3 separate regions of the Homo sapiens genome follow, and regions 2 and 3 are each linked to region 1. Evidence: fine-mapped expression QTL. A gene starts in region 1. Each other region holds a variant in brackets. All regions are shown on one strand. Distances are from middle to middle.

Region 1 (2,763 bases):
AATGCAATTGTTTTTAATATGTTCACACGCAACTGTCTCTACAATCTAATTTTACAAAAATTTCACCACCCCCCCGCCCCAAGCCCATACCCACTGATTAGTAGTCACCTACTGTCCCTCCCATCCGCTTCCCCAGCCCTGGTAACTACTAATCTACTTTCAGTTTATCTGGACATTTCATGTAAATAGTATTATAAAATATGTGGTACTTTTTTTTCTAAATAGGAGAAAGGAGACCTGATGACACCCTGATAGTCTAGTACTAAAGGCTCCCCTTCTCCTCTTTACCCCATTACTCCAGAAACAACGCCCTCCCCCAGGTTGCTGATGTATACAATCCCTCAATCAGGCCTGTGAGTGTGGAGGTGGTGCGCGGGTGCCAGCGGCAGGGCACAGGGCCTTTGGTCCATTAGACCATGAGACTGAAGTTCAAGCACATCTGGGCACGGTGGAGCAGCGGCTTGTGTGCTCACTAAGATGCCCGTGTGACTGCCAGCAGTCAGTTGACAGATTAGGTCACCCTTGGCCATAGGGCCTGAGCACTCCATTCCTAGAGGACCACAGGGTGCCAGAGCTCACATTCACCTTCCCTGACGTGGCTGGCCCAAGGCTCAAAGGCCTGTAAGACTTCTCTGGCAGAGACCCCTGCCAGAGGAGTTGAGGAGCGTCACACCCATATTCCCTTCAAGCAGCGGCAGAGAGCAGGCCTTCCCCTGAGGTTCCTGAATAGTTCTACTCCCCCGGCCACAGCCCCAACCAGGGGTAAAGAATGGGGCTGGGGCTCTCAGAGGCATGGGGTGGTAAAAACAACCACCAAGTTTTGGGTTCTCATCACCCTAAAACGTGGGGGAAATTTGATAGGGCAAAGCGTTTTTCTCCAAGCTTCCAGGGAAAGGGGGCCAAAGGAGTAGGGAGGGAAGGTGGCATAGAGCGATGGAGGGTCCTGCATCAAGGGCGCCGCGACGGGAGCGCTGTGTACTCACAGTCGAGTGAGACCGGCCGTGGGGCCGGGGCAGCGCAGGGCGCCGTCGGGCACGCAGTTGCAGGGCTCAGGGCAGAGCGCCTCGCGCAGCGCTCGTGGCAGCGGCGGCTGCAGCAGCAGCAGCAGCTTCAGCAGCTGCAGCGCCGAGAACCGCTGCTTCATGGCCGGCGAACTGGGCTTCTGCGGCTTGCCAGTGTCTTGGACGGCCTCTGAGTGCGGCCCGCACCCCTCTCCCCGCCCCTTGGCTGCCCTTCCACACACCCTTCCCTGCCGGCCCGCCCCTGCCCTCCCCCTCTTACCGCGCACCCCGCTGAGTCTGCTCTGCCTTGACCTGCGACAGTGCCCAGTGACCCAATAACCTCCTTCCTGCTACTTTCCCCTGTCTTGTCCCCTACCATCTGCAAATGGCCCTAGCTATAGGAGGTAAAGAGATTTAATGGCAAATGTTTTGGATTAGAGGTGGGGAGTTCTGAATTGAGTGAGTTGTGACGCTTCCCGGAACCCCTTTTATTTCATTTGTGAAAGGGTCCGATGGATACTCGCTATACCCACATCAGAAGGCGTAAGAGTGCCTGGCTCAGACATTTTTCCTCTCTTTTATCCTCAACCCCTAATCCTTTCCCCTTCTCTTTCACCAAATCCCTCCACTCTACAAGTAATCTTTGCCCATCCTCCCAACTACCCCAGTAATTTCTCTTGGTGGTAAATGCTTTCTTATTTATGGTATAGCTATTTGGCTTGGTCCTGTATCTCTTCTATAGATTGGGAGGTCCTTGAGAGCAAAATCCAATTCAGATTTATTTTTGTATTCCTTCTGGCTTCTACATGGTAAGTCCTCAGTAAAGATTTGTTGAATGAATGAATGAAACTGCCTAATACTGGTAGCAGCTGCCCCATAGAAGGCCCAGGATAGGCTAGACCTTGTAACAGGTGCTCTGCCTCACATCATGTTTAAGCTCCACATTGAACTAGCAGGGTGTTTGCGATGAGAAAAATGTCCCAAGAGGTATGTGGCTTCCCTGAAGTCACACGGTTTTAAAGTAGTGAAACCTGGAACTCATGTCTATCACCTACCACCTCTCACCAATGCAAAAAGCTGCTATGATCTACATACCAAAGAACTTAGGAGACAAAATTTTACGGTAATCATGGGGATCCATAATATCCCCTCTTTGATTTGATCATTTCTTCCTTCCAAGGATTCTGTTTGGATTCTGGAAATCCTAGCAGTTTTGCTGGAAGAGGTGGACTTTGAAAGCTGGGAAGGCATTTAAGGCTTTGAAGAGAGGAAATATAAGAATAGATTTCTTTCACTCTGAAGCCAGTTCTCAAGGATGGGCTCCTTCATTCACCATTCTACAGTCTGTTGCTCAAGGAGGGTAGATTATTATTATTTTAAAAACTTGTTTGGCTTTGGCCACATTGTGCTAGATGGCACAAAAACAATGCTCATGTCTATAATATTGTCTTCTCTGGATCCTCTCTTCAACTGCTTATAGATGACTCCTCACCCTTTAATACCTCTGCATGGGCTGTCCCCACTATTTTCTCTTCTTTTTCCATTATTCCATTAGATAAACTCCCAGTTGTCCTTCAAGACTCAGCCCAATGTCATTTCCACTTTGATTCTTCTCTGAGTCATCCTAGTTGAGTAGTTGTGGCCATAACACCTGGTTCTACAGCAGGTAATCTAACACACTGTAATTGTGGGTTTAATTTTGCTTTCCCCTCTCTATTCATCTCAATATCAACAGAGCATGTCATAGCTTCTAGCTCCTAGT
Region 2 (2,763 bases), 21 kb before region 1:
GAGTCCTGGGGGCCAGGGAATGGGGAGAGAGGTGGGGTTAGGCAGGTGCACTGTGCTTTTCACAACAGATGTGTTCCCATGAGGCAACACAGAGAATGTGGTCCTGTGAATCGAAAACCATTTTCCCTACAGACTTATATGTTTTTTTTTTCAGAAATGTCACATCTTCATTTCTGATTCGTCTTTGATGGGTAGCAGTTCCTAAGCATTCAAGTATCTGTCTCCAGAATTTATTAATAAAGTTTATGATTTGTTGATAACTGTTTGAATGTACTCCCTTTGAAGGTGTCCCACTCTCTATTGGATGCATCTATGATTCTTTCCATGATGCCAGAAACTTTTAGCAATGTGAACAATGATCTTAATAACCCTGCAATTCCACTCCTGTATACATTGAGAAAAATTCTCAAATTGATACTTAAAGGAATCTTGTACAAACGTTTTCTTCACAGCATTGTGGCATCAGGGGCTTGGAGGCAACCTGGGTGTCCATTACTAGGTGAGGGAGTATGTAAAATTTGGACCGTACACACCTAACTGAATAGGAGAGCCTGTAGAAGTGAGAGTCTAAAGGCACACAGAGTAGCATGGGTGGATCTTCAAATCATGGAACTGAGAGAAACAAGAAATTACGGAGATATAATATACTGTTTGCAGAATTAAAATATATGTAAACGAAACACTAGACATTAACCTCCTCCTGCACATGAACATACACTAGGATTGTTATCTAAGGTGAGTTGAGAGGAACAGAAGTGGGAGAAGGAGATAAAATAAATAACTAAAAACAGAGAGGGACTTTGAATGGACTAGTGATAATGTTACTTGAATGAAGAAATATGACCAACTTAACCCTCTGTACTAGAGAGACAAATGGAAAATAAAAAAGGTTTATTTTGATGTATTGGCAGCCTGCTTGCTTACCTTTCTTCCTCCTCCTTCCTCCTCTCTCCCTTCTTCCCTCCTTCCTTTCCTTTCCTTCATATTTTTTTGGAGTTAGGCATACTTGTATTCCAATAGTTTTGTGAACTATTGTGGAAAGGTCTAGTCGGTATCATTTGATATAGAGCAGAAGCCAAGGAGAACTGAGGGCAAAAATGCCTAAGGCAAGGACAGTTCAGCAGCTCTGCTGTCCAGGGTCAAAAAAGGAATGAAAGCTATGCATAAAGCAAAGAAAATAAAGGAAGGACAGAGCCCTTTCTGTCTCAGCAAAAGAGGGTGATACACCACAACT[A/G]TGCACCTCAGATGGGTGGTAAAGAATTAGGGTTACTGGGAAAATATGAGGTTGAACTTGCAGGGTGGAGATTCTCTCTTGAAAGGTGAGACGGCTGTGGAAAAATATGGCTGTAGAACTATGCAGCTACTTAAATTTATTATATTTTCACAGTCTTTTTTGCAGTTTTGAACTTTTGTTTTTAAATAAATTGATGAGGCAACGCAGGTGGCACCTTGCCCAAGTGCCTTTGCCACAGATGTTGAAACAAATGCTTCAATTGGATTACAAAGTCTGCGTTAGCTTCATCAGCTTGGAACTTCCATCTACTCATTAATCTCATCTGCAGGTCCCCAACCCTTCTAGTTGTGTGTTAAAGTTGAAATCGAAACAGTCTGTCCTCCTTAGGGCTGGAATTAAGTCATTCATCCTAGTACTGGGATCTTGTGATTGGTCATGACTCTGGCGAGGCTTGTGCATCGTCTAAACTGGACCCAATAATATTAATATTTGGGGGCAGGAGTGCACCTGCAGTGCCTTCCCACATGCTATGCTGGTGTTTGTTTTTGTCTCGATTTCTTATTCTGTAGCTTGCTTGGTCTCCCCAGAATCCATCTAGGAGTAGGGCTTCTCTTAGTTCCTGCCTTCTCTTTTTCTCAATCACCAGATCCTGATCCCTGTATCTCTACCCCTTAGGGAACACTGCTGCCCTAGAACAGTTCCTGGTTGCTGTCTGGTTAGGGTCAAGCTAGTATCTCTTACTGCTTAGTTCTGACTTTCAAACTGGGCCCCTTGGCACAGACGGTGACCCTGTGTTAGGACTACCCAGTGGAGTTGGGTTACTTTCTGTAGTGGATACTGTGGTGGGCTACCCAAGTCACTCTTTAGTACTGACGCACCAATTTCGCCAACTGCTAGGAAAGAGTGGGTGGCTGAAGCTCTCAGCTGAGTTGCTCTCCTAGAATTATGCTTATAGACTGATGTGGTTTGGGTCTGTGTCCACCCAAATCTCGTGTCAAATTGTAATTCCCAGTGTTGGAGGTGGGGCTTGGTTGGAGGTGATTGGATCAAGGGGGCAGATTTCCCCTTTGCTGCTGCTCTTATGAGAGTGAGTGAGTTATCATGAGATCTGGTTGTTTAAAAGTGTGTAGCACCTCTCCTCTCTCTCTTCCTCCTGCTCTGGCTACATGAAAATGTGCTTGCTTCCCTTTTGCCTTCTGCCATGATTGTAAGTTTCCTGAGGCCTCCCTAGCCATGCTTCCTGTACAGCCTGCAGAACTGTGAGCCAACTAAACCTCTTTTCTTTGTAAATTACCCAGTCTTGGGTATTTCTTTATAGCAGTGTGAGAATGGACCAATACACAGACCAAGATTGCTACCTCACCCAGGATTATGTCTTCTCTTTTGGGCAGCCCTCATCCAGTGACTGGACAATGTATAGAATAAAGGCCCAGCCCCCTTGCCTCCGGGTGGGACTACTCAGAAGGACCATCCTATCTTTAGACCTTCTTCCTATCAATTCTTACCTGGGCCCTGACTTGATCCCCTTC
Region 3 (2,763 bases), 160 kb before region 1:
CATCAACTTGGGCTAACGCTGTAGGTCAGCCCAGCTTCAGCTCTCCAGGGCATGGACAGAAGCCTTCATTCTGACTACATTGCATCCCAGCTTCTCTCTCTGCCCATTTAGCTTCATTTCCTGCCTCACTCCCCCATGAATGTTGAACTCAACGGCACTCTCCAGTAAACTTTCTGCACACAGATCTCCATCTCAGAGTTTATTTCTTGGGGAACCTGACCTATAACACTAGGTATATATATATTATGTGTGACTGAAATGTGGGTCAAGTGGCATGGAGACTGTGTTTATACTTATTTTCCTATTCACAGGGCATGCCAGGTTCATGCAATTTTAGTGGACAATTAAAAATTACTTTACAAAGTATCTCTTGCTTTAGTAGCATTTACTAGTTGATGTGCACCTGGTGGCAGTTTCAAAATGTTTTCTTCCATTTAGTAATTATCTGTTGCCAGATACTGCTCCACATGCAGGGACACAGCAGTGTGAACAGAGAGACAAAGTCCCTGTCCTCATGGAGCATAGTTTCTAGTGGGGGTAAACGAAAAATAGTTAGTAGATAAATAAATAAATAAATATGATTTCAACTAATAACAAATTCCAAGAAGGTAATAAAATAGGGTAACGGGATAGAGAGTGACTGGAGGGCTTTATCAGGGGTAGTCCTGGAGGACCTCCAGGAGGATGTGACATTTGAGCTGAGACAAAAATGATGAAGAGCAGATGGTTTACTATTAGGTTGCTGCAAAAGTAATCACGGTTTTTGCCATTAGTTTTGCAGCAACCTAATAGTTTGTAAGATGGCTTGTTTCAATTAGATAATTTTGGGTGCATTATAAATCTTAAGGGGGCCAATGGCTAGATACATGATACAGCCATATATTCAGGTAGAGGGATAATTGATCATATGTCTAGTCAGATCTGTAAATTTTTTTTCAGTATACATATTCTGTATACATTTTATAAAAACTACGTTTGACTTAGAAGACAGTTTTGGTGCTCTTGAAGACTTGACCCTGGCGGGGAGGATTTGAGGGGCTCTGTTGTTCAAAAGGAGAGCAGAGCGCCTCACTTGGAAGCTACTGTAGGAGGGTAGAGGGCTGTGTCTGTGTCCAAAGGGTGAGGTTTGTGCAGTCTGTGCCACATGTATAAAATAGGACTGAAGAGGTGTGAGTGCTGTGTTGCATTTGTTAATGCTGCCTGTGTTTTGCTTTTGCATAACAGGTTGAAATAGAAAA[G/A]AAGTGGATTAAAATCGATGGAGAAGACCCAGATAAAATTGGTGACTGCATAACTCAGTAGGAGTAGCAAGAGTTTATGATGACAGCCCACTTGTCAAATATGTAATTCACCGAAACCACACCAAGTCCTGCTACTGTAGAGTGGAAATGACTTCTGAATAGCGGTTTTAGGACAGGTCTGATGGCTGTGTTTAGAGAAGTTTAGACCTAAAACCGAACAATCTGTATTTTTTGCTTTTCATGTGTTTTTGTCCTAGGGGTTCGATCTAAAATGTTTCTATAATTCGTGTGATGTTTTGCTTCCTATTGAAACTCAAAGGCACTGTTACTCGTTGTGTGACCCCGCAGCCAGTATGATTTTTGATTACTCAGTGGCTGACTGTTTTGCTCTCTGGATTACTGAGGTGCCGTCTTCATTTCTTCCCATCTCTTCTTGCTGCTTAGTGTCTGTACTAGAGGGTAAGGGAATCAAAGGAGACATAAACCAAAATAGTTAATTTTCCCTCTTTCTTGCCTCTGAAATGTGGCTAGGTGTAGAATGATGTTGAAACCACAGGCTAAAATGTAGATCTGGAAGTATCTGTGCTTTTGAATTACTTATTTACCTGTCCTCTTACCGTTGGTAAATAATAATTGGCTATATTTGGTACCTGTCTCTCTCCTACTGTATTGTCATTTTCAAAATGTGTTTGTTTTCTGGCGCGTGCTGCAAAGAAGCTATTTCTGTTGTCCTACATATTTTAGTATAAATCACTAAGACATATTTCCTTTCACTTGGCAGGATTCCTTTCAAAATGGAATCTGAGTATTAGACACTAGTTAACATATTTGTGTATATTAAATATGAATTTTTAAAATTTATAAATACTATTTTCCAAAAGTACAGACTCTAAGGACATATTTTGATAAAGTATTATTTGTAATGAACACAAGCCTCTCTTGAGTAGAAGTCTAAATCACATTATGATTATTTTATACTAGTTCTGCTATCATGCTGTTTTATGCTAATTCTGCTTATTTTAGAGTATTTTTCATTAAAAGGTGAGCAAAGTGAAAGATACTTGGTATTTTACCCAGATTTCTAAGTGGCAACATTTTTATTCTTCAGAGTCAGGTAAATGACTATAATAGTTTGGTTTCTAATGAAAAGTCAATAGCATTAGCAGTTATAATTCTGTTTATAATTTCCTTTCAGCATTTACAGTGAAAAGTGAGAATTTTAAAATTTATGAAATCTATATTCCAGGTATTGTTTTTAGTCTGAAAAACAAACTCCCCCATGTGGTATTAATATACCTTCAATTTATGTTGAGTCTTAAACATAATTAGGAGATATTTTTCTCTATTTGCTAGATTTGTTTTGAGTCAAAACTGATTTAGTGTTCTTCCAAACAACATTTATGTGTTGGCCTACAGAGTTTATTTCATGTGTTTTTTTTAATATTTAATATTATATTACATTCATTGAAATCTGTTCAAAAACAGATTAAGACAAACATTTATGATGGTCTGTATCAATCAGCAG

Which allele goes with the higher level. Alleles are on the strand shown, and positions count from the first base shown. SD is a standard deviation of normalised expression in the study named.
With allele A in place of G in region 2, the expression in tibial nerve of the gene that starts at base 1,197 in region 1 is higher (large effect, 0.78 SD a copy in GTEx).
For the expression in sigmoid colon of the gene that starts at base 1,197 in region 1, allele G in region 3 goes with a lower level than allele A (moderate effect, 0.49 SD a copy in GTEx).

What was found.
Region 2: its variant is fine-mapped to the expression of LHCGR in tibial nerve (GTEx, PIP above 0.99).
Region 3: its variant is fine-mapped to the expression of LHCGR in sigmoid colon (GTEx, PIP above 0.99). The same link has a PIP of 0.9 or more in prefrontal cortex and prostate.

Annotation. Positions count from the first base shown.
Region 1 is chr2:48,754,528-48,757,290 of GRCh38, forward strand. It overlaps LHCGR (luteinizing hormone/choriogonadotropin receptor), which reads right to left and starts at 1,197. Exons shown (of 11, transcript NM_000233.4): 1 at 984-1,197. The coding sequence starts at 1,144. All of the region lies in intron 10 of STON1-GTF2A1L (STON1-GTF2A1L readthrough), which reads left to right. RefSeq lists an enhancer at 755-1,531.
Region 2 is chr2:48,733,624-48,736,386 of GRCh38, forward strand. The region is part of intron 10 of STON1-GTF2A1L (STON1-GTF2A1L readthrough); the gene reads left to right. The region is part of intron 1 of LHCGR (luteinizing hormone/choriogonadotropin receptor); the gene reads right to left. Among named protein-coding and RNA genes, the nearest start is that of LHCGR, 21 kb to the right of the region's middle. The variant A/G (reference allele first, on the strand shown) is at 1,235.
Region 3 is chr2:48,594,004-48,596,766 of GRCh38, forward strand. All of the region lies in intron 3 of STON1-GTF2A1L (STON1-GTF2A1L readthrough), which reads left to right. It overlaps STON1 (stonin 1), which reads left to right. Exons shown (of 4, transcript NM_006873.4): 4 at 1,225-2,763. The coding sequence ends at 1,299. Among named protein-coding and RNA genes, the nearest start is that of GTF2A1L, 22 kb to the right of the region's middle. The variant G/A (reference allele first, on the strand shown) is at 1,239.